Linked DNA regions of Homo sapiens: all the other regions are linked to region 1. The links come from fine-mapping of genetic effects on gene expression. A gene starts in region 1. Each other region holds a variant in brackets. All regions are shown on one strand. Distances are from middle to middle.

Region 1 (5,153 bases):
CCAGTCTGCGCCCTGCGGGTCATATGAAAATGAAACTTTAGACCCTCCAGGCAGAGGCAGCAAAGTCCCCTTGAGCCCCATCTGTGTTGATGTGAATTCCGCTCCCCTCCCTGCTGCCTCCGACTGTGCCTTGGACCCGTGGGTGGCAGATAAGGGCTCCCCGGAACCAGAACTGAGCTCCTCAACCACAGAACCCCAGAGCCTCCTCCAGTAATGCTTCTCCTGCGTTAACGACAAGGACTGAGATGGTTAATTTTGTTTTTGGCAACCCCAGAGAAGTAAAACCCACAATGCAGAAGAAGGAAAACCAAATGCCACTAATTGTGATACAACCACCCCGTTGCCCGCTTCCGGAGACAAGGTTCTGGACGCGGTCCTGGCGCGGGAACCTGAGCTGGAGCCGGCGACCCCCGCCCGCCACCAGCCCGCGCCCCGCAGAGCGCACGCTCAAGAGCGCGAACACCCAGCGTCTGCTCTGTGCTGACGGCGTTCTTTATCAGCTCATTTAATTTTTAGATTTGTTGGCCCATTCGACGTTCACAATGTTCAGAAATGTACGCTGGACAAATAAATAGGGCAAGAGCACGAGCTCACCGATTTAAAAATTCCACACAGCATTGCAAAGGTTTTCTGGAGCCTCGTCATCAAAGTTGACCCAGGAAGAAGTAGAGGCTTCCATGTGGGACACTGTTATTTCTAATCTACTTTGAAACCGCAGGGCAGGCAGGGAGGGAGGAAGGAGAAAGAAGCAGCAGGCCAGGTCTGCAGGCAGGAAGAGGAGAGCCGGCCGGCAGCCGCCGCCTCGCTGAGGTCTGAAGCCAGGAGGCTGGGAGAATGCGCAGATAAAGACGAGCCAGACCTCCAGACCGCAACCCTCCTCTCCCTAGAGAGGGAACAGGCCGCTTTCTGCTTATGCTGAACTCGGGGCTCTGGAGACAGGAAGCGTGGAGGAGACAGCAGAGGTGAGGCTGGGAGATAGGATTTCAGTGGGTCTCTTCCCCCTTCCCGGTCTCAGGACATCCACCCCAGCGGGACATCAGAGACTCCCTCTCTGGAGGTCACCAGCTGCAGCTGAGCAAAGCCCTGAAGCGAGCAGTGTCCGCAGCTTCCGACGCCTCAGCGTGGGTGAGGGGACCTCGGTGGACGAAGCCACCTGTACCCCGGCGGTTGAACAGGAGGGGAAAGCGCTCCCGGGAGGAGCCTGCGGGCCCAGAGGCGGAACGGTGGGGGTGGGGGCGGCGACTCCTGCTCAGAAGCAGCCCCGCCCATCCCCATAAACTCTCCCGCACAGTCGCCGAGAGGCCGGATTCCTGGGCGACTCAGTGCGCCTCGCTCCGCAGGCAACGCGCGGGGGCCATCGCCCTAATCCTGATCTCATCCTTCGGATGCTGTTACTATAATATTACTGTTAGTTTATTATTTGGCCATCGCCGACGTGGCTAGCGCCCGTAACTGTCCCGGGGCGTGTTATGCACCCCCCGCTCCGTGCCAGGGACGCGGACTCACCCCTGTCCCTGTGCGCATGGAACGCGGGGAGGTCGCCTCTGCCCGAGAACTCGTCCTTGTAGTCCAGCAGCGCTTCCTTCACCGCCTTGTAGCCGTGCATCACCACCATGCGCTGCGAGCCCACGTACAGCGTGAACACCGGCCCGAAGCGCTGGGCCAACTGCGGAGACCCGTGGCTAGAAGTCAGGCCCGCCGCGCGGCGAGGAGGTGCGGGGCTCTAAGCCACACCCCTGCCGGGCGGGTATTGCTGTTGCTCTAGAGAACCCAGAGGGACGTGGGGAAAAGCTGTCTTTGTCCAGCCCGAGGTGGGGGAGACCCTCCCCTCAAGAGGCTGCTGCGTCTGCAGGGCGCTCGGGGGGTTCCAGCTGCTCTGCTCCCCACCCGCCTGGACTCCGCGGACAACTCCGCGGCAACTCCGCGGACTCCGGCTCCTCACGTCCCTTCCCTCAGGCGCGCCCACCAACCACCCCGTTGCCCGCTTCCGGAATCAAGGTTCTGGACCCGGTTCTGGCGCGGGAGCCCGAGCTGGAGCAGGCGACCCCCGCCCGCCGTCAGCCTGCGCCCCACAGAGCGCACGCGCAAGAGCGCAAACACCCAGCGCCTGCTCCGTGCTGACGGCGTTATCAGTTCATTTAACGTTTAGGTTTGTTGGCCCATTCAGTGTTCACAACAGTCGTAGGCGGCAGGTATTGGTGCCACACGGGCTGGCCCAACACTTCACGTTTCAACTCGTGCTTTGGCAAACACAGGCGGACGCCCAGCGAGTGCGCATCTGGCCGCCAGCCCGGTTATCCTGGCGTCGCAGCAGCCCGGCCTCGCCGGCCTCCCCATCATCAGCCCCAGGACAAGGCACCGGCGGGGGCCTCCGGGGCCTGGCACGCAGGCTCCGGGCTCCAGCTGCACCACAGGCGACACATTTTGAGTGTCGCTCCAGGATGCTATCAATTCAGGTAATTCACAACAGGCTGGTATTGAACAACCACAATTTGTCTGCAAATGAGTTGAATACACACATACCAGATCCAATTGCTGAGTTATTCTCCCTAAAATCAACACTATTTCTCTTACCCGGGTGAAGGACTTGGGAATATTCTTCAATTCCAACTGGAAGAGGTTCCCGATGATGGGAAGCGGGAAAGGGCCTGGGGGCAGATTCCAGCTGCTGTGCACCTGCCTCCACATGGACACCAGCAGGAGGAAGGCCGCCCACACCAGCAGGGCCACGGTGACTCCGAGGGCAGACATGGTGCCGCTGGGGCCCTGCTGCCAGCCCGGGAGACAATCCTGTGGAAACGGAAGGTTTTTATAATGTGTTCTGAGAAGGAGGGTGACCCACCAACCAATGCCCTCTTGCTACTCGTCTATCCCAAATTACTGGTTTATTATTAGCTGCTGTTGGCCATCGTTTCAAAGGCTGATTCCCGCAATGGTGGCCCCCAGGGGTTCCAGCCAGTGACCTGGTGAGGATGGAGTTGGACTGTGTCAACACCCTGGTTGCTAGCACCTGTCACTGTGCCAGCAAACACATCCAGGAACATGTTGCCAACCCATAGTTAAGAACGTGGGGTGAGGTACCGTCCTGCCCTTTGGCACTGGTTAGACAACGGGGAACTCCAGCCACATCCCCATGCATTTGTTTGGAGTAGGGTTTATGTAATACAACTCCAACCCCATGCCGACCACCTCTAGACACGGTACCGGCCCTCCTGGTGCAACAGCCTCTTGATGTCTGATGAGGAGGTTTGTCTGAGCAGCCCCCAGTAGTACCTGAATCACCACCTGCCACATGAATGGGGCCAGAAGGAAAATTCAACATCGGAATTCGATTCCACTTTCTCAAGTTAACTGGAAAATTCCATGGAAGAAAAATAAAAGGAAAGAGTGAGTCAACCAATTCTGAGAAAGTTAATCTCTGTTTTCATTTTTTTTAAAGGTATATATTCTGGCTGTAGAAAATTAAGAAAAATTGTTCTTTGGAATTATTCCAAATTTAAATTCTTAAAAAATTACATTAGAGTTTTATTGGATTTGTTTTACATTAGGGTAAATTTAGAAGACGATTTTAAAGATATCTTGTCTTTGTTGATCCCGGGACACAATAGAGCTCCACATTGACTAGCTTCTTCTTTCATGTATTAATTATTTTCTTCATACAGACCCTCTTCCACCTTCTATGAAGGTAGTCCATAGGTATTTTGTGGAGCTTTTTTGTGTGTGTGGTTAGAATGAAGAGAATGTTTTTCATTCTGTCTTCTAACTGGCAATATATAGAAGTTCTTAATTCATAGGTTGCAATTTTGTACTTTTATATTAACAATGAATCTTTATGTATAATAGAAAATATGATGAGAAATGAAGAAAATAAAAGTCATTTACAATCCAGCCAAATCACTTGTGGATTTTGAGTTATGCCATTCTATACTTGTATTTATACAAAAATGAGACTACATACTATATATTGCATTCTAACCCAGTTTTTCTCTTGACAATTTATTAGCCACATAAGCAAGTCATTGGTTGTGCTGCACCTAACACTGCACCTCTCCTGAACCAAGAAGGGGCGTTGGCCTCTGGCAGAGGCTTCAGGGGCCTTTGCTTCCCTCTGGTTTTTGGCACCCCTCGAGGTGAGAACTGACAATGTAGACTCGACTGGCTCACGGGTGGGTTAGCCTGCCGCCTCCTCCTCTCTTTCCTTTCCAGTGGCCAGTGTGAGGTGGCAGGGACAATTCCCTGGGCAGAAACAGCTGTCCAGACCCCTGAACCCTGTTGTCCTGTGTGGGCCCAGCCAGGCCTGGCCGGGACAGACACCCATTGGGGTCCACAAGTTTCCTCGATTACTGGTTCCTTCTTCTAGTGCTTGAGAGCAGCAGAGTCAGCTCCCCACAGACTGAAATTGAAGCCTTGGCTTTGGTGGGGTGAGAACAGGAAGCATCAGGGTGGAGAGGCAGAGCAGGCCTCTGGCTCCCCTGGGCTGAGGACACCTTGTCTGTGCAGCTCACCTGAGTGTGCACATCCCAGGCGGGACCCGCGTGCCCTGGAGAGTCTGTGCCTCACAGGGATGCAGCTGTGGTCTGAGTCCTCTGGCCATAATACTGTTAGATGCCCAACCAACATCAAATTTTATATACGGGAACACCTCGTTTGAAAATAATGACATTTCTGTGTGCTTCTTTTCAGAAGCCGGGGCTTTTATTTGTTTTGCATCTGTCCCATTGGCAGGACACTCTAGGACAAGGTGAAATAATCAGGATGACAGAGTGCCTGTGCCTCTGCCCGTGACAAGGTGAAATAATCAGGACGACAGAGTGCCTGTGCCTGTGACAAGGTGAAATAATCAGGACGACAGGGTGCCTGTGCCTGTGACAAGGTGAAATAATCAGGACGACAGGGTGCCTGTGCCTCTGTCCGTGACAAGGTGAAATAATCAGGACGACAGGGTGCCTGTGCCTCTGCCCGTGACAAGGTGAAATAATCAGGACGACAGGGTGCCTGTGCCTCTGCCTGTGCCCGTGGCAGGGTGTTCTTCAGGCTTCCATCACGTCTGCTGTTGGCTGGGTGTGGCAAAGAGGTGACTGTATTGGGACAATTTTCTTCTTTCTCTAGATAACTAACAGTGTTTATCAGGGATGAGAGTTGGGTTAATGAAA
Region 2 (5,153 bases), 60 kb after region 1:
GGGCGATGGATGCGTCCATTCTCATAGACGCTGCGATCCTTTCAGGGGTGTACGTGCATGTCAAAACTTATTGCAATGTATTCTTTAAATATGTGAAGTTTATTATATGCTAATTATACCCCCATAAACCTATTAAAACAAAATCACAACATATCAAAACTCTTGGAATGCAGCCAAAGCCATGCTAAAAGGGAAAGTTATAACCTAAAATATATGCATTAAAAAAGAAAAAATGCTGAATATCAACAATCTGAATGTCCATATAAAAAAGCTAGAATAAGCAGAAGGAAATCACAAAGATGAGAACAGAAATAAACGAATTAGAAGGCAGATGTTCACCAAGAAAAATCAAGAAAACCAAAGGCACAAGCTCCACGTGCCTTGGAAAGACTAATGAGATGAAGCCGCCAGCAGCACCGGTCAAGAACAGCAGAGTGCCCAGAGTCCCAGCTGTGCGGGGGGCTGTGAGGGAGGATCGCTAGAGCCCAGGAGTTTGAGTCTGGTGTGGGCAACACAGTGAGACCTTGGTCTCGAAAAAAAAAAAAAAAAAGGAGAGAAGACACAAATTGCCACTATCAGGATTGAAAAATGCACATGACTACAGATTTTGTAGACATTAAGGCTAGTAGAAAGATACTATTAACAAATTTATATGGAAAAACTTGAAAATTTAGATTAAATGTACCAATTCATTTTTTAAAAGGACTGAACAAAGCAGATCTAATAGGAAATAGAGAATCTGAATACTTCAACTATTTATTTTAAAAAATTAAATCTGGAAAAAAAAAACCTCACTAAAGAGGAAACTCCAAGCCTAGAGAGCTTTACTAGTGAGTTCTTCCAACATTTAAGAAGAAATAAAACCAATGCTACATAAACTCTTGCAAATTTTTTTAAATTATTCTTTAAGTTCTGGGGTACCTGTGCAGAATGTGCAGGTTTGTTACATAGGTATACACGTGTCGTGGTGGTTTGCTGCACCCATCAACCCGTCATCTACCTTAGGTGTTTCTCCTCATGCTATCCCTTCCCTAGCCCCCCACCCCCTGACAGGCCCCAGTGTGTGATGTTCCCCTCCCCGTGTCCATGTGTTCTCATTGTTCAACTCCCACTTATGAGTGAGAACATGCAGTGTTTGGTTTTCTGTTCCAGTGTTAGTTTGCTGAGAATGATGTTTTCCAGCTTCATCCACGTCCCTGCAAAGGACATGAATTCATCCTTTTTTCTGGCTGCATAATATTCCATGGTGTATATGTGCCACATTTTCTTTATCCAGTCTATCATTGATAGGTCATCAGAGTGAACAGGCAACCTACGGGATGGGAGAAAATTTTTGCAATCTATCCATCTGACAAAGGGCTAATGTCCAGAATCTACAAGGAACTTAAACAAATTTACAAGGTAAAAGCAAACAACCCCATCAAAAAGTGGGTGAAGGATATGAACAGACACTTCTCAAAAGAAGACATTTATGCAGCCAACAAACATATGAAAAAAAGTTCATCATCACTGGTCATTAGAGAAATGCAAATCAAAACCACAATGAGATATCATCTCATGCCAGTTAGAATGGCGATTATTAAAAAGTCAGGAAACAACAGATGCTGGAGAGGATGTGGAGAAATAAGAACACTTTTACACTGTTGGTGGGAGTGTAAATTAGCAAATATTTTTTAAAAGAGAATATACTCCTAACTCTTATGAGACCTGAATAATCCTCATACCAAAAATTAAACAGAAATACTACAATAAAAGAAAAAAATTACACATCATTTTCTTTTTTAAACATTGACCCAACATATTACCAAACTAATTCCTGTGAAATACAAAAAGAATAATATATCATGATAAAGGTAAGTTTGTTTAACCCATGGTTAATTTAACATATGAAAATCAATCATCTATCATCTTAATAGATACAAAAAAGAATTTGATAAAAGTCAACACTTATGATAAAAAGCAAAACCCTTAACAAATTAGGTATAGACTGGGCTTTCCTTGATCTGATAAATAGCATCTACAAAACTGAACATCAAATATTATATTTCATAGTGAAATTAAATGTGGAACACATTTGCTCTGAGTCCTTGAATGAGACAAGACCTCCACTGGCTGCCTCTCTTCAACACTGGACTGAAGGGTCCCAGCCCCCGAAATAAGGCACAGAAAAAGAGATTAAATGTACACGGATTGGAAGGAGAAGATAAATCTGAATATTCACAGATGACATGATTACACAAGTAGAACATTTAAAAGATACTTTGGATTCAATTAAGAAGAGTTTTTAAGAAAAAAGAGGAAGGTTCTGGCATGGGGAGCTCTGCAACCCACTGCTGGGTGCCAGAAGCGAGCTGTGGAGCGGAAGATGAAGATGGCACCATGTGTCTCTAAACCACAAATGGAACCACTGATTTCTATGTGTATTTGCATTTGCTGTAATGTGTGGGAAATCTGAAGGTTACACAGCACAACTGTCCACAGCAGATGGCCCT[C/T]GAAGGGGATGAGGTTTAGAGCCAGGCAGGGCCTGGAAGGACTGGATTTTACATGGACATGGAGGACATTGCAAGAGAAAGGCATCCAAGGTGTTCTCACGAAATCCACTACAATTGTACAAGAAAATGAAGAGCTGTGATTTCGACAGCCAGCTGGTGTATCTCATCCTCAGGTTGCTTTACAACGTCATCTCCTCCAGAGGAAACGCAGCCTCGTCATATCCCTGAGAAACAGGTCTGCTGTGTCCTCCCTCCGCACGTATAGACTGTCCCTCCAGGAGGTTAGACACCTCCCCTGAAACTGGCGCAAGAGACACCGCGTGACCAAATCAGCACACGTGCAAGTTGTCCCCAGAGCACATTTGGCAAAGCCCGTAAGACAGGAACGCATAAACATGTCAACCAGAAAGCACCTGGCAATGTTCAAGGCATCCTGACATTGAAGCACCCCAAGCAGCCTGTGACAGCAGCACAGCTCCCACAGGTGATGAAACTGAGGCTGAGTGAGCTGCAGCATATGCCCCTGCCAGACCCGCGGCTCCCAGCACACCCGACCAGCCCTCTTCTCCCACCACAGGGCAGGCCTCTCCGATGGGGACTCCAGCCACTGACTCTGCCCTCATGGGTGTGGCCCTGCTCTCCCCTGCCCACGAGTCCCTTTGCATCCATGAGCCCTGTGGTCAGCAGCCTTCTGAAGCCAGGCTCCTGTGGTCAGAGTCCCTTTCCACTGCATCTTGTGGTCAGCATCCGTAGCCCACCCCAGAGCTCACCCCTGAGCTGGAGCACAAACCCACCTGCGGCTTCTGTGTCCACCTTCACCACACTTCCGTCCTCCTCATCTTGGAGCACAGCCTCGGCCTCCATGATTTCCTCGTACAGTCCTGCTGGCGGCATTTCCCCAATGACATCATAGATGGCTTCTCCAGGAGATACCTCGGATCTTCCCAGACCTGAGGCAAGGTGAGCATGGTCACACACAGGCCCTCAGTGTGGATGTGGCCACAGGCAAGGGAGGACAGCAACTCCAGGCAGGAACCCCAGCCAGGCAGCAAAGAGGCAGGATGCTGTGGGCTGGGATGGAGGGACCACGGCAACATAGCCAGACTCCCAGTGCCCTCCCATCCCTGGCCACCGTCCCTTGCCAGCAAACCACATGATGCTTCCCAGTGGGCCCCAATGTGCTGCCTGGGGGAACCTTCTAGGGTTGAGCTCAGTCTTGAGGGCTGGAGGCTGATGCAGATGTCTGCCACTCTCTCTGGCCAATAAAATGAGCCCTAAGTGAGATCAGCCTGCAGGCTGAAGCAACTCTGCCCTGAATGCTGATCCACCGTGTTGACTTCTGACCAACTCCAGTTCCGGGAAGGCCTCTAAGATTTCTATTTTATCTACTGTTCCTTGCATAAGAGCATGCATTCACTGTAAATCCTGCCCTTAAGCAATTGTCCTACATGTCCCCTTCCCCTGAGGTATATAAGTTCTAGTTGTGAGGGATGATAATATGGGCATCCACCGTCTCAGCTAGAGGCCATCCAAGGCATGGACATGGCTTGTCTTCATAAGTCCCTTTTAAGTGTTTCTTTCTAAGGAACTGGATTTGTCTGCCTCTTTCTTCAGCTTCTCAGTTCCTTGGACTTTGGGGGTAGGTCTGCATAGGCCTGACTGCTGTGGGGCACCCCGCCTGCCCAGACCCCAACACCAGGCTGGAGCTGTGAGCTGCTCTTGCTCCTGCACACCAGTTGATGGGATCAGGGTGGGCTCACGCTTACCCCTCTGCATGGCTTGTGTGACTCGAGGCAGAATCAGAAAAGCCATGAGGCCCAGAAGGAGAAGACCAAGAAGGGATCCCAGGACGACACTGACCACCCAGAATGTCCGGAAGGGAGCTGCAGGCAGTGGGGGGCCTGGGCCAGGCTCTGAGAAAGGAGAGGTCTTGAGCCAGCTGGGTGGTGGGGGGGACCTGCACACCCTCAGCAGGACAGGGTGGCTCCAAGGGCCCAGCCACACCCTCTCCCTCATGGAGGACCTGCGAGTCGGAAGTGCTGGGGGGGCATCTGCTGGTTTCAGCTGTGCAGAGCACCCCAAAATGGCTAGTGTCCACTGGGGGTGTCTGCTTTCAAGGGACAGCCCCCTTCCTTGGTAAAACATGGCCCCCAGGCAGATGCCAGGGCAAGTCACAAGAGGTGACCAGAGCACAGAGAATGGGAGTGGCTCAGGGAAAGTTACCACTGCTGCTGCTTTTGCTAAGGTCATCACTGTGGTTAACTGTTTGTTTTCTGCAAAGAGAATGAGGTGCAGGGAACAACTGAACCTGCCAACACCCAGGTGACACATACCCGAAATGAACAAGGATTGGAATAAACAAAAGGGAATTCCCAAAAAAGATTAGGGGGAAACCCCAGGGAGTGCATGTCCCAAACAGGCCTCCACAGCAAATCAGCCTATCCCAGAAAAATCCCAGGGTGGAAACCAACCCACTAACACCTGGGCGAGCTCTCCTGCCCACCGAAGTGACACTCAAGACTGACTCCATCCCAGCGCCCTCTGCCGGCCCCATGACCGACTTCCCACCGCCCCCCACTCACCCCAGCAGCGCACGCCCGCGTCCTCCTCGTGCGCGCGGTCTCCGCGTCCCCACCGCTCCGCAGGGCAGCCCCACAGGGA
Region 3 (5,130 bases), 68 kb after region 1:
GCTGAGACCCAGGTGAAAAAGAGGCAGCCCCAGGAATTGAACTGGCTGTGCCCAACATGCTGGCTCCAGCAGATGGTCTGACAGCCGGGTGCCTGTAGATGCCAGCTCAGATGGGGTCCCCAGAATGAAGCTTCACAGAAAAACAAATAAAGCAGCCACCGGAGGAAAATGCTGCAAACCAGAGAGCAAGGACAACATGGAAGATGCAGAGGAAGGGCTAACATCCGCCGCTTTCCACAGAAACCAGCAGAATGTTCTAGAAAATGACCTGTCATTCTCACTGAGATGCCAGAAAAAGATGGACCTTTTATGAGAGCAGAGCATCATGTCATTAGGAGAAAACAAGCTGCCGAGAATAAAGACACAAAAATGAGATGATGGACGAGGTGAGGAGGGCGAAATAATACACCAAAGGACTGAAGAGCAGAATCGACAGAAACACAGATTGTGACGTGGGTGCCACCTGGAGAAACACCCCAAGAATGCCTGGGGAAAGAGTCATGCCAAAATTAATTTCAGAAGCATAGGGAAGGCTCAAACTCACGAGACTCCAGCATTGCATACAAAGAACACAGTAATTGAAATAAACGTAATAATCCAAGATATCGCTGAAGAAAGCGTTCCTAAAGTAAAATATAAACCAAAATCAATGAGAAGAGCCCACACTTGGATAAGCTGCCAGAGACTCTGCCAGCATCCAGCCTCTCCCCCAGGGTTGCCTGAAAATACCCTGGGAGACCACAGGTCAGATGGGCAGCCCGTGACCCTCTCAGGAGACCGCAGGTCAGATGGGCAGCCCGTGACCCGCTCAGGAGGCCGCAGGTCAGGTGGGCAGCCCGTGACCCACTCACAGGCTTCTCCAGAGAACCCATCCCCCAAAATGACAAAATTCCATCACCCAAGAATGACCACACCTGGACAAGATCAGAACACAAAGACGCTCAGGTATGTGTGAATAATAATAATAATAATAATAAAGCTCATCCACCATCTCAAAAATAGTCTGCAAAATGGTCAGGTGCGGTGGCTCACACCTGTAATCCCAACACTTTGGGAGGCTGAGGCAGGTGGATCGCTTGAGTCCAGGAGTTTGAGACCGGCCTGGGCAACATGGTGAAACTCCATCTCTACAAAAATAAACGTTAGCCAGACATGGTGGCACATGCCCGTAGTCCCAGCTACTTGGGAGGCTGAGGCAGGAGGATGGTTTGAGCCCAGGAAGCAGAGGTTGCACTGAGTCAAGATTGCACCATTGCACTCTAGCCTGACCAAGATCTTGTCAAAAAAAAAAAAGTCTGCAAAAAGTTCTCCAGTACACCAAAATATGGATCAAAATTAAGAATCTGAAGCCAGCGGCAGTGCCTCACTTCTGTAGTCCCAGCAGCTTGGGAGGCTGAGGCTGAAGGATCCCTGGACTACAGGAGGTCAAGACTGCGGTGACCGGTGATGGGGCCACTGCACTCCAGCCTGGGCAACACAGTGAGACCGTCTCAAAATAAATAAATAAATAAATAAATAAATATTTAAATAAATATAAAATATTTTTTAAAATATATAAATATATATATATATATATGAATTTCGGATGGAAACTTCAAGCGCACTTGAGCTGGTTACGGCGGAAAATGAGCCCAGGTGGGGCTGCCCCAGGGCCAACCTGCGACAGGAAGCTGACCAGCTCCCCAGGTGCACGGAACCAAAGTACTTTGTCCGGTAGCACTTACTATACCAACAGGAACCTCACCCAATCCACTGTGGAAGTTCTGCATTCAGGGAAGAGAACAGCTCCCGATAGTTTGATGCTGTTCTGGAAAGCAAGTGCGCATGACTGTACGTAATAAAACAGCATGATCATTCCATACCCAACGGCCGCTCACCTGAGCAGAAGACGCCGGCGTCCTCCTTGTGCCTCCAGTCGTGCCGCCCCCAGCCCGCCGACGGGCACTGCCACAGCGCAGACTCGTGGCCCTGGCAGCCCAGCTCGTCCAGCCAGATGCGCCCTGCCCCGGCTCCGAAGTGTGCGGCCCCCAGGGCGCTCAGGGCGCGGCCACAGCCCAGCTGCCTGCAGACCACGTGCGCGTCCCGCAG[G/C]TCCCAGGCATCGTCACACACGGTGCCCCACGCGCCCCCGTGCAGCGCCCCGGCCCCGCGGCCAGCCGCACCCTGAGGCTCCCTGTGGAGAGACAGAGTCAGGGCGCCCGGGATCCCGTGGCGACGGGCCATGGGGGACGCGGTTCCGACCTCACCGGAGCACACCACGCCGGCGTCCCGCGAGGTCCCCGCGGGCTCCTGCAGGGTCGCGGACACGTTGCACTGAGTCAGGCGGGTTTCGGTGCCCAGACAGCGCACGCGGCTCAGCGCCACCTGGACGGATCCGCGGCTGGGGGCAGGTGCGTCATAGGCTTGCTGGGCCCCTCTGCACCCGAGTTGCCGGCACACCACGCCCGCGCCGCGCAGGTCCCAGGCATCGTCCAGGACGCGGCCCCACACGCCATCCAGGGAGACCTCCACGCGGCCGTCACAGCGGCTCTGTCCTTCCCTCAGTCGCAGGGCGTGGGCCAGACCTGGGGATGGGGACGCACAGGGGCCCAAGATGTCAGCGGGAGGGACCCAGGACCACCCCCCAGCAGGGCCCGTACCTCTCCGCCCCCTCTGTCCTTCCTTGCACTCCTCTGTCCATGCCTCTCACTCACCCTCCTGGTCCACCGTCCTGGCTGCACCCACCTGAGCAGACCGCGGAGGCTGTGTTTCCCGGGGCACAGGCCGGGGCCCCCAGGGTGCTTACTGGGCAATTCCACAAGTAGGACTCTGTCCCCTCACAGTGAAAGGCATCAGGCCAGATGGCAGCGTCCCCGTCCCCAAAATGGCCTCCTCCAGGTGCGGCCACCGCGTTGCCACAGTTGAGCTGGTGGCAGAGGACGGTGGCATCTGCTATGTCCCAGTGGGTGGCACAGAGGGGTGCCCAGGACCCCTGCACCTGGAACTCCACGCGGCCCTCACAGCTGCTGCTGCCGTTGACCATCCTGAACTCTGGGGGAGAGGAGGAGTCAGCCTGGCTTGCAGACGGCCGACCCAGAACATGGCTGTCTGTGGTCATTTCCTTCCTTCACACCCAGTGGGATGGGCACAGAGCCCAGCCTTGGTCTCACCAGCTCCCCCACCCTCCTCTGCATCAGCATCCAGCTCACACAGCTCTCCAGAAGAATTTGATCTTAGCTGCAGCCTTGGGGTACATCACTCTACACCCAGTCTCTTCCCTGCGCTTCTTTCAACCAACAGAAGCAAACATCAAAAGCACCCACACCTACTGGCCAGAGGCACCTTTAGGGCACGAAGGGATTTGACAGAGAACAAGGCAGGGCTGAGCCTTCAGAGCCCACACACAGGACTTCACCTGAGCACCTGAGCCCCGCGTCGTGACCATGCCCACACTGGCTCCCACGCCCCCGTGGGCAGTGGAACAGCAGCGACTCGTTGCCCGCACAGCGGAAGGCCTCCGTCCACACCGGCCCCGAGCCCCGGCCGAAGCGGGCGCCCTCGGGCGTGGACACGACCGCCCCACACTGCAGCTCCCGGCACACCACGTGGGCCGTGGCCAGGTCCAGGGCCGCATCACAGACGGTGCCCCAGGTCACCTCCAGGCGCCCGGCGCAGGGGTGCTCGCCGCCCACCAGTCGGGCCTCGGTGTGTCCTGGGGGCAGACGTCCTCTCAGGCAGGAGACAGGTGTTCTCAGGTCAACAGCCTGGCCCTGAGCCTCAGACTGCGGAAGGCTTCAGCCAGGAGCCATCACCTGCATCTAGGCAGAGGGTCTACCAAGCACAGGCAGGAACTTGCAGCCACAGGCCCTTCCACCCGGCACCCAGAGCAGAGCAGACGTCCTTGGCCGCATCACCAAGGTCAGGGTCAGGGTCACCTGCTGCAGGTGCTCACGTATTTCACAGCCTCTGCCTGTCCGAGGCCATGACAGCAACACCCTCTGCAATCCCAGAGGCGAGGTCAGGGCACCCCTTGGTCCACTGAGCACCACCCTCTCTGGGGTACCGCAGCAGGCAGACTATCCACCTCATTTCAGCTGCTCCTCATATGCACAACAAGGCCAGGAGCTGTGAGGCCAGTGCAGCTCACACACAGTTGAGGCAGGGCTGGGAAGAAGTGACCTCTACCCAACCCCGATCCATGTTAGACATGCAGAGATCACAGCTGAGGCAGCTCAGACTTGCAGCGGCAGCCAGGACCCCTAGATGGCCTGCGGGTTCTGAGCCAGGACACCTCTGTGGGGCCACCAGAAACTCAGCTCCACTCTGCTGAGAACCAGCGTGAGAGCTGAGGCCCTTTCCCACCTCTGCGCCCAATGTCTCATGCAGGACAGGGGGGCCCATCCGTGGGAACGCCCACCCCCCTTCTCCCTGCCCTCCCCAGGTCCGGGCCCAGCATCATCCCAAGGGTCACTGGGAACATCAGGTGGCAGCCTCACCTGAGCAGACCACCTCTGCGTCCAGCCGCAGGTCGCAGCCGCTGCGGAAGTTGTTGTCCAGTCTGCAGCTGCGGATGGTGGGCTCGGTACCCCTGCAGGCCAGGTACTTCCTGACGACGCCCACGTCCCGGCGGGGGGCCTGGAGCACAGGGCCGCACCCCAGCTCCCGGCAGAACACCATGGCCTCCTCCACATGCAGGACACAGAGGCGGTCCACCCCATTCACGTTTCTGATCTCGGGGAGTCCCGCGCAGGGACTGCGGCCCTTCACCAGCCGGAGCTCCCGGAAAGTGCCGTCTGTGGAGCACAGGCCGGTCCTCCTTAAGGTATGGACCCAGCTGGCCGCATGGTCACTCGGCAGCTCCTTTTTCAGGGAGGACAGTGATGGGCTGAGCCAGGGCCAGCTTCAGGGGCAGGTGACCGGGCAGTCACACAGGGCCCTGGGCTCAGAGAGACCCCTGTGCCCAGCTTCATGCTCTGCTGCTGGTCTCCTGAAACAAGGTTCCCCGCAGGATCCGTTCACACTGGGCCCCAAAATGGTAGGAGGTCCTGGCCAGGTGGTTCAGCCTCAGAGGCAGGACGCTATGAGGGGGTCCTCACAGCCACATAAAATGTGAGGGACAGCTGAGGACCCTCGAGCCAGACCTCAAAGGGAAAG
Region 4 (5,153 bases), 94 kb before region 1:
AATTCTCATGCCTCAGCCTCCCAAGCAGCTGGGACTACAGGCATGTACTGCTATGCCTGGCTAATTTTTTTTTTCCTGTATTGTTAGTAGAGACAGAGTTTTGTCACTTTGGCCAGGTTGGCCTCGAACTCAGGTGATCTGCCAGCCTCCGCCTCCCAACGTGCTGGGATTACAGGCATGAGCCGCCTTACCAAGAAATTGCTTCTCTTTTAATCCAGAAAAGGTTGTAGGCTCTCACTCTTCCAGCCTGAACCCATGGAGTACTAATATCCACAAACCATTAATAGCACTCCCTGTGGGAAAATGTCTATATATTTTGTTTGATATAATTATAGTAAAATTACTATGCAAGCTGTTTACTTTTAATATTTCTACATAAAATTTAAGTCAAGATATAGTAAATGGTAAATGATTGTACTTATTTATTGACCTGCCTCATGTTTCATTTCATTTTAAACATCCTAAATTTATATTTTATTATATTTTATACATTTCAATTGATTGTACTATATTGCAGGATATGGAGATTTCATCACGTACTACAATACAGTGTATTTTGTTATATTTGACGTATATTCTACTTGTATTTTGTACTGAGATCATACACTATTTCATTATCTAAGTGTATTAATTGTTTGGTTGCTTTATAATTTTCATTTTATGTAATGAAATAAACAATGTTGTTTGGAATTTTAAATTTCTTTCATATGGAATTTGTATTTAATAAAAATGTGAAAAAGAGAATGTCTTATTGTCACTTCCGTGTCATCCTATCCCTGACCTCCCCACAGCCCACAGCTCTTGTCATAGTGCGGGAATAGTGTTCTATCACTACAGGAAATGGGGCCAATTCAATGGTAATATACAGATATGAATTGGAGATACAGAGATTTTATTCTCGAGCACTGCAGTATAAAAGAATCACAGTAACGCGAGTCACACAATTTTTGGGTTGACCCTGCTTATGAGTTATGCTTACACTCTGCTGTAGAATAACGCTGAAATAAATCATGTCTATTAAACAAATGCACATACATAAATAATGTGTCTAAATAACAATGTACATAATGAAAGTGAATTTTATTGCTAAAAAAATGTTAACACACAGATACACACAATGGGATCATATAATGTTGAAAAATAGAGATGGGGAGAGGAACAGAGACAGAGAGAAAGGGAGGAATGGAGCGAGAAAAGGACGGATGGATAGAGGGACATTGGAAAGGAGAAAGTGGGGAGCGGGGAGGGAGGGAGGGAGGGAGGGAAAGACAGAGGGAGAAAGGGAGCAAGAGACAGAGAGGAAAGCAGAGAGGAAAGCAGAGAGGAAAGCGGTCTTCCGCCTCCAGGGCCAGCGGGACCTCGCACTCCGGGAAAACGTGGGGTGCCCGGTGCAGGCCGAGAGCTCGGCCCACAGCCGCGTCTGCTTGCGGGGCGCCCACCAGCTCACCAGCCCTCCGGATCGCCGGCCCGGGTCACTTCATCCCGGAGCAATTCGGACGAATTCCGCCTCCCAAGGAATGAGAGCAATGAGCCGAGACGCGGGTGATTGTCCGTTTTCCATCCACGTGGTTCACAGACGACACGGCCCCGCGTTGAGCAACAGAGCGCGAGGCGGACAGGCCCGTCCACACGGGAGTCACACTCGGGCCGAGTGAACCGTGATTCCGGGTTCCACGCTCCTTCGCCCTCTGCAAGGGGCCTGTTGCTCGCGTGTCTCCCGCCCCCGAAAGCGCGACCACGTTGGCTGTTTCCCGAGCTCTGCGGGGACACAGAAACCTCCAGCGAAGCGTGGAAAAGCAGCATCGTGACTTCGCTCTCCTTTCCGGTTTCCAGACCGGCCACAGTGGAGACTCCCCTTGTTGCAGGAAACAGGAATCCGTGGTCAGGCCGTGATGCACCCGACGTTTCTTTTCTCTGCAGTTTCGCTCTCGTTTTCTACATGAAAACGAACGAGATCCACACCCCCGCGTGTGTGAGACTATCACGGCAACGGCGACACCCACAGAGGGCCTGGAAAACTCAAGACCGTCACGGAAGCTCAGTTCCACACTCCACCCTTCAGGGTGGTTTCTTTTAAACGAAATCTTCCTTTTTAAAAAAAAGTTGGTTTGGCCGGGCGTGGTGGCTCACGCCTGTAATCCCAGCACCGTGGGAGGCCGAGGCGGGCGGATCACGAGGTCAGGAGATCGCGACCATCCTGGCTAACACAGTGAAACCCTGTCTCTACTAAAAATACAAAAAATTAGCCGGGCGCGGTGGCGGGCGCCTGTGGTCCCAGCTACTCGGGAGGCTGAGGCAGGAGAATGGCGCGAACCCGGGACGCGGAGCTTGCAG[T/G]GAGCCGAGATCGCGCCACCGCACTCCAGCCTGGGCGACAGAGCGAGACTCCGGCTCAAAAAAAAAAAAAGTCTCAGTGGACCTTTGCAGTAATTATACTCCATTGTATACATGAAAACAAGGCTTTCTGGAAACGTGTTATTGATCAGAGGCAGCAGAGTGAGAAGCCAGTGTGTCATACTGTCCAACACACACTTCCTGCACAGCCCTGCCGTGCTCACTCATGACTTTCTGACAAACTGCCTTGTCACTAGGAAGCCCTTAATTTTCCTCTGTGCCTCCCTGAAAGAGGGCCTCCCCGTGAGTTAACAGCTGGAGGGGAATGAAAAAATAAGCTTTTTCTTAGCACAAAACCTTTTTTTTAACTTTTATCTTAGGTTCAGGGGTGCATGTAGAGGTTTATCACATAGGTAAACTCATGTCATGGGGGTTTGTTACGGAGATTATTTCATCACCCAGGTACTGAGCCCGGCCCCCAATAGTTCTCTCTTCTGCTCCTCTCCCCCTCCCACCCCCCACCCTCAAGTAGGCCCCAGTGTCTGGTGTTCCCTTCTTTGTGTCCATGTGTTCTCATCATTTAGCTCCCACTTACAGGTGACAATGTGCAGTATTTGCTTTTCTGTTCCTGAGTTAGTTCACTTAGGATAGTGGTCTCCAGGTCTGTCCATGTTTCTGAATAAGATGTGTTCTTCTTTTTTATAGCCGCATAGTATTCCATGGAGCATACGAACTACATTTTCTTGATCCAGTCAGTTATTATGGGCATTTAAGTTGATTCCCTGCTCCTGCAGAAGCCAGACTTCTGTGTATCACCGCATGGCCCCGTGACACAGGAAAATGCACGTCTCTGGGAGAGGATGGCCCTTTCTCATCCTGCATGGTGACAAGTTTCCAAAGTTCACGAGCATTTATTCAGCACCTGCTCTGAGCTATGCCGATGCTGCCACAGGACAGGTGGTGGGGACACAGCCTGCAGTAACAGAGAATGCCCTGCCCTCAAGAAGCTGTGTTCTTCTTAGGGGAGACAGACAACAAGCCAAGTCCTGGAGCCGCCTGCATGGGGAGTGAGCGAGGAAGAAATGTAATGAGGGGCAGGGAGCAGGGGAGAGCTTCACGCCCACCGCCGGGTCCACACTCTTGTGCTGTCCTCCCTTGGAGGGTCTAATTAGGACCATGTAAACTTCCTGGGTAGCTGACATCTATTTGGGTAATGTAGACTCTCTTGAGCCTTTCCAAGTTTTTTATCTTGTGATCATTGGTCAGAAGGCGTCTTTCACAAGTTAACAGGTGGGTTACGGTAGGATCCCCAGAGCTCCGGGCTTCCCCCAGCCCCACTTCATGGCCCCGAAAGAGACTCCACAGGTACCCTTTGAATCACCTGGACTAGATGACTCTTACAGATTCCTTTCCCAGTTGAATAATCCAGGGCCCCTTGAAAAGGTCTTGTTAAGCCAGAATCCCAAAACATACGTTTCATTTCTCTTGGGTTCCAATGCCTAGGGGTGCGATCGCTAGGTTGTATAGAGAAAGTGTATATAACTCTCTAAGAAGCTGCCAAACTGTTCTCAAATTATGCATTTATCAAAACCCACAGTATAAGCTAAAAGAGTGTTTTATTCTATGCAAATTAAGAAATGAATTTTTTAAAACCTACAGGTTTGGCAGTAAATGTGGTTGATGGTTGAGGTTGACCCCCTACCCCTGAATGTTGATTTTATTCTACTAGGGATGCTCAGTAAGGCATCAGGGCATGACATCCCCTGGAGATGAAGCAGTCCCCAGATCTGCAACTGGCCAGCTGGAACCCCGAAAGAGCTGATGGAGTTCATCCCAGTCTGAAGGCTGGGCACTCAAGACCCACAGAGCCTGTGCTTAGGTTCAAGTCCAAAGCCTGGAAAAGACCAAGGTCACAGCTCAAGGCAGCCAGGCAGAGCATGTCCCCAGCAACCCCCAGGACACATCAGTGGAAGCTGGAGGATGCCGGCCGCCTGGGCCTGGAACCTCAGAGCCTGCATTGAGGTTAATTTCACATGTCCGTCTGACGGGCCCACAGAGGACAGACATTTGGCCAAACATTATGCTGGGTATGCAAGAGGGGGCTCTGGGTGAGATTGACATTTGAATTAGTGCAAAGCTTTGGGAAAGCTTTTCAGTCCAAATGGCTGGCCTCAATTAGCATGGATGTGAACAAATCGGCAGACCTCCATGAGGACTGCTATGAACATTGGACCTGGCTCTAATGTGAGTGACAGAACATCTTAGCTGACTTACATGAGAACCACAGGGAATAACTGTACAGGACCCATGAGGACAGCTGTGAACACCTGGGCTGTGCACAATGAAGACAGCTACGAAAAGGTCGGTTGAGCTCAAGGAAAACAGCTCTTAAGCCCTGGGCAGGTCCCCCATGAACAACCAGCCAGAACACCTGGGCTGGCTGCCTTATTGATTGTTATGAACACCTTAGATCACCCAAATGAGAATGGCTGTGAACAACTGGGCCAGACCCAATGTTGACAGCTGTGAAAACCTGAGGGGGCCGAAAGAGGACAGCTATAAACACGGGGATTGGCTTGGATAAAGGTAGCTATAGTATCTTGGCTGGCCCAGTGAGCATGGGGTGAACACACTGGCTGGCCCTCAGGAGGATGGCTGTGATTAAGTGGGCTGTGCCTAGTGAGGACAGCTGTGAAGAACTTGGCTAGAAACAAAGAAGATGGCTATGGACAACTGGGGAGGCTGAGATGAGGGAAGCTGTTAGCAGCGGGGCTGGTCCCAATGAAGACAGCTATGAACACCTGAGACGGGTCAGATGCAAA

Which allele goes with the higher level. Alleles are on the strand shown, and positions count from the first base shown. SD is a standard deviation of normalised expression in the study named. Not every link is listed here.
As copies of G replace C in region 3, the expression in Th1/17 cells of the gene that starts at base 2,784 in region 1 goes up (large effect, 0.81 SD a copy in Schmiedel 2018).

Evidence for each region. PIP is the estimated chance that this variant, and not a neighbour inherited with it, causes the effect. A credible set is the group of variants that fine-mapping cannot tell apart.
Region 2: its variant is the best candidate, but not a certain one, in a credible set for the expression of CYP2E1 in whole blood (TOPMed, PIP 0.82).
Region 3: its variant is the best candidate, but not a certain one, in a credible set for the expression of CYP2E1 in Th1/17 cells (Schmiedel 2018, PIP 0.67).
Region 4: its variant is the best candidate, but not a certain one, in a credible set for the expression of CYP2E1 in prefrontal cortex (ROSMAP, PIP 0.85).

The regions. Positions count from the first base shown.
Region 1 is chr10:133,524,994-133,530,146 of GRCh38, reverse strand. It overlaps CYP2E1 (cytochrome P450 family 2 subfamily E member 1), which reads right to left and starts at 2,784. Exons shown (of 9, transcript NM_000773.4): 1 at 2,575-2,784; 2 at 1,507-1,666. The coding sequence starts at 2,751. It overlaps LOC105378575 (a long non-coding RNA gene), which reads left to right and starts at 3,188. Exons shown (of 5, transcript XR_946512.3): 1 at 3,188-3,387; 2 at 4,004-5,153. RefSeq lists cis regulatory regions at 3,081-3,105, 4,331-4,337, promoters at 2,777-3,330, 2,689-4,146, 2,777-5,153 and enhancers at 3,331-3,458, 3,747-4,159.
Region 2 is chr10:133,465,487-133,470,639 of GRCh38, reverse strand. SCART1 (scavenger receptor family member expressed on T cells 1) reads right to left here. Exons shown (of 12, transcript NM_001396050.1): 9 at 5,075-5,153; 10 at 4,259-4,405; 11 at 3,287-3,442; 12 at 880-2,793. The coding sequence ends at 2,672. Among named protein-coding and RNA genes, the nearest start is that of SCART1, 14 kb to the right of the region's middle. The variant C/T (reference allele first, on the strand shown) is at 2,493.
Region 3 is chr10:133,456,918-133,462,047 of GRCh38, reverse strand. SCART1 (scavenger receptor family member expressed on T cells 1) reads right to left here. Exons shown (of 12, transcript NM_001396050.1): 3 at 4,473-4,769; 4 at 3,392-3,688; 5 at 2,722-3,027; 6 at 1,878-2,561. Among named protein-coding and RNA genes, the nearest start is that of SCART1, 5.5 kb to the right of the region's middle. The variant G/C (reference allele first, on the strand shown) is at 2,089.
Region 4 is chr10:133,619,486-133,624,638 of GRCh38, reverse strand. It overlaps FRG2B (FSHD region gene 2 family member B), which reads left to right. Exons shown (of 4, transcript NM_001080998.2): 4 at 1-744. Among named protein-coding and RNA genes, the nearest start is that of FRG2B, 4.7 kb to the left of the region's middle. The variant T/G (reference allele first, on the strand shown) is at 2,335.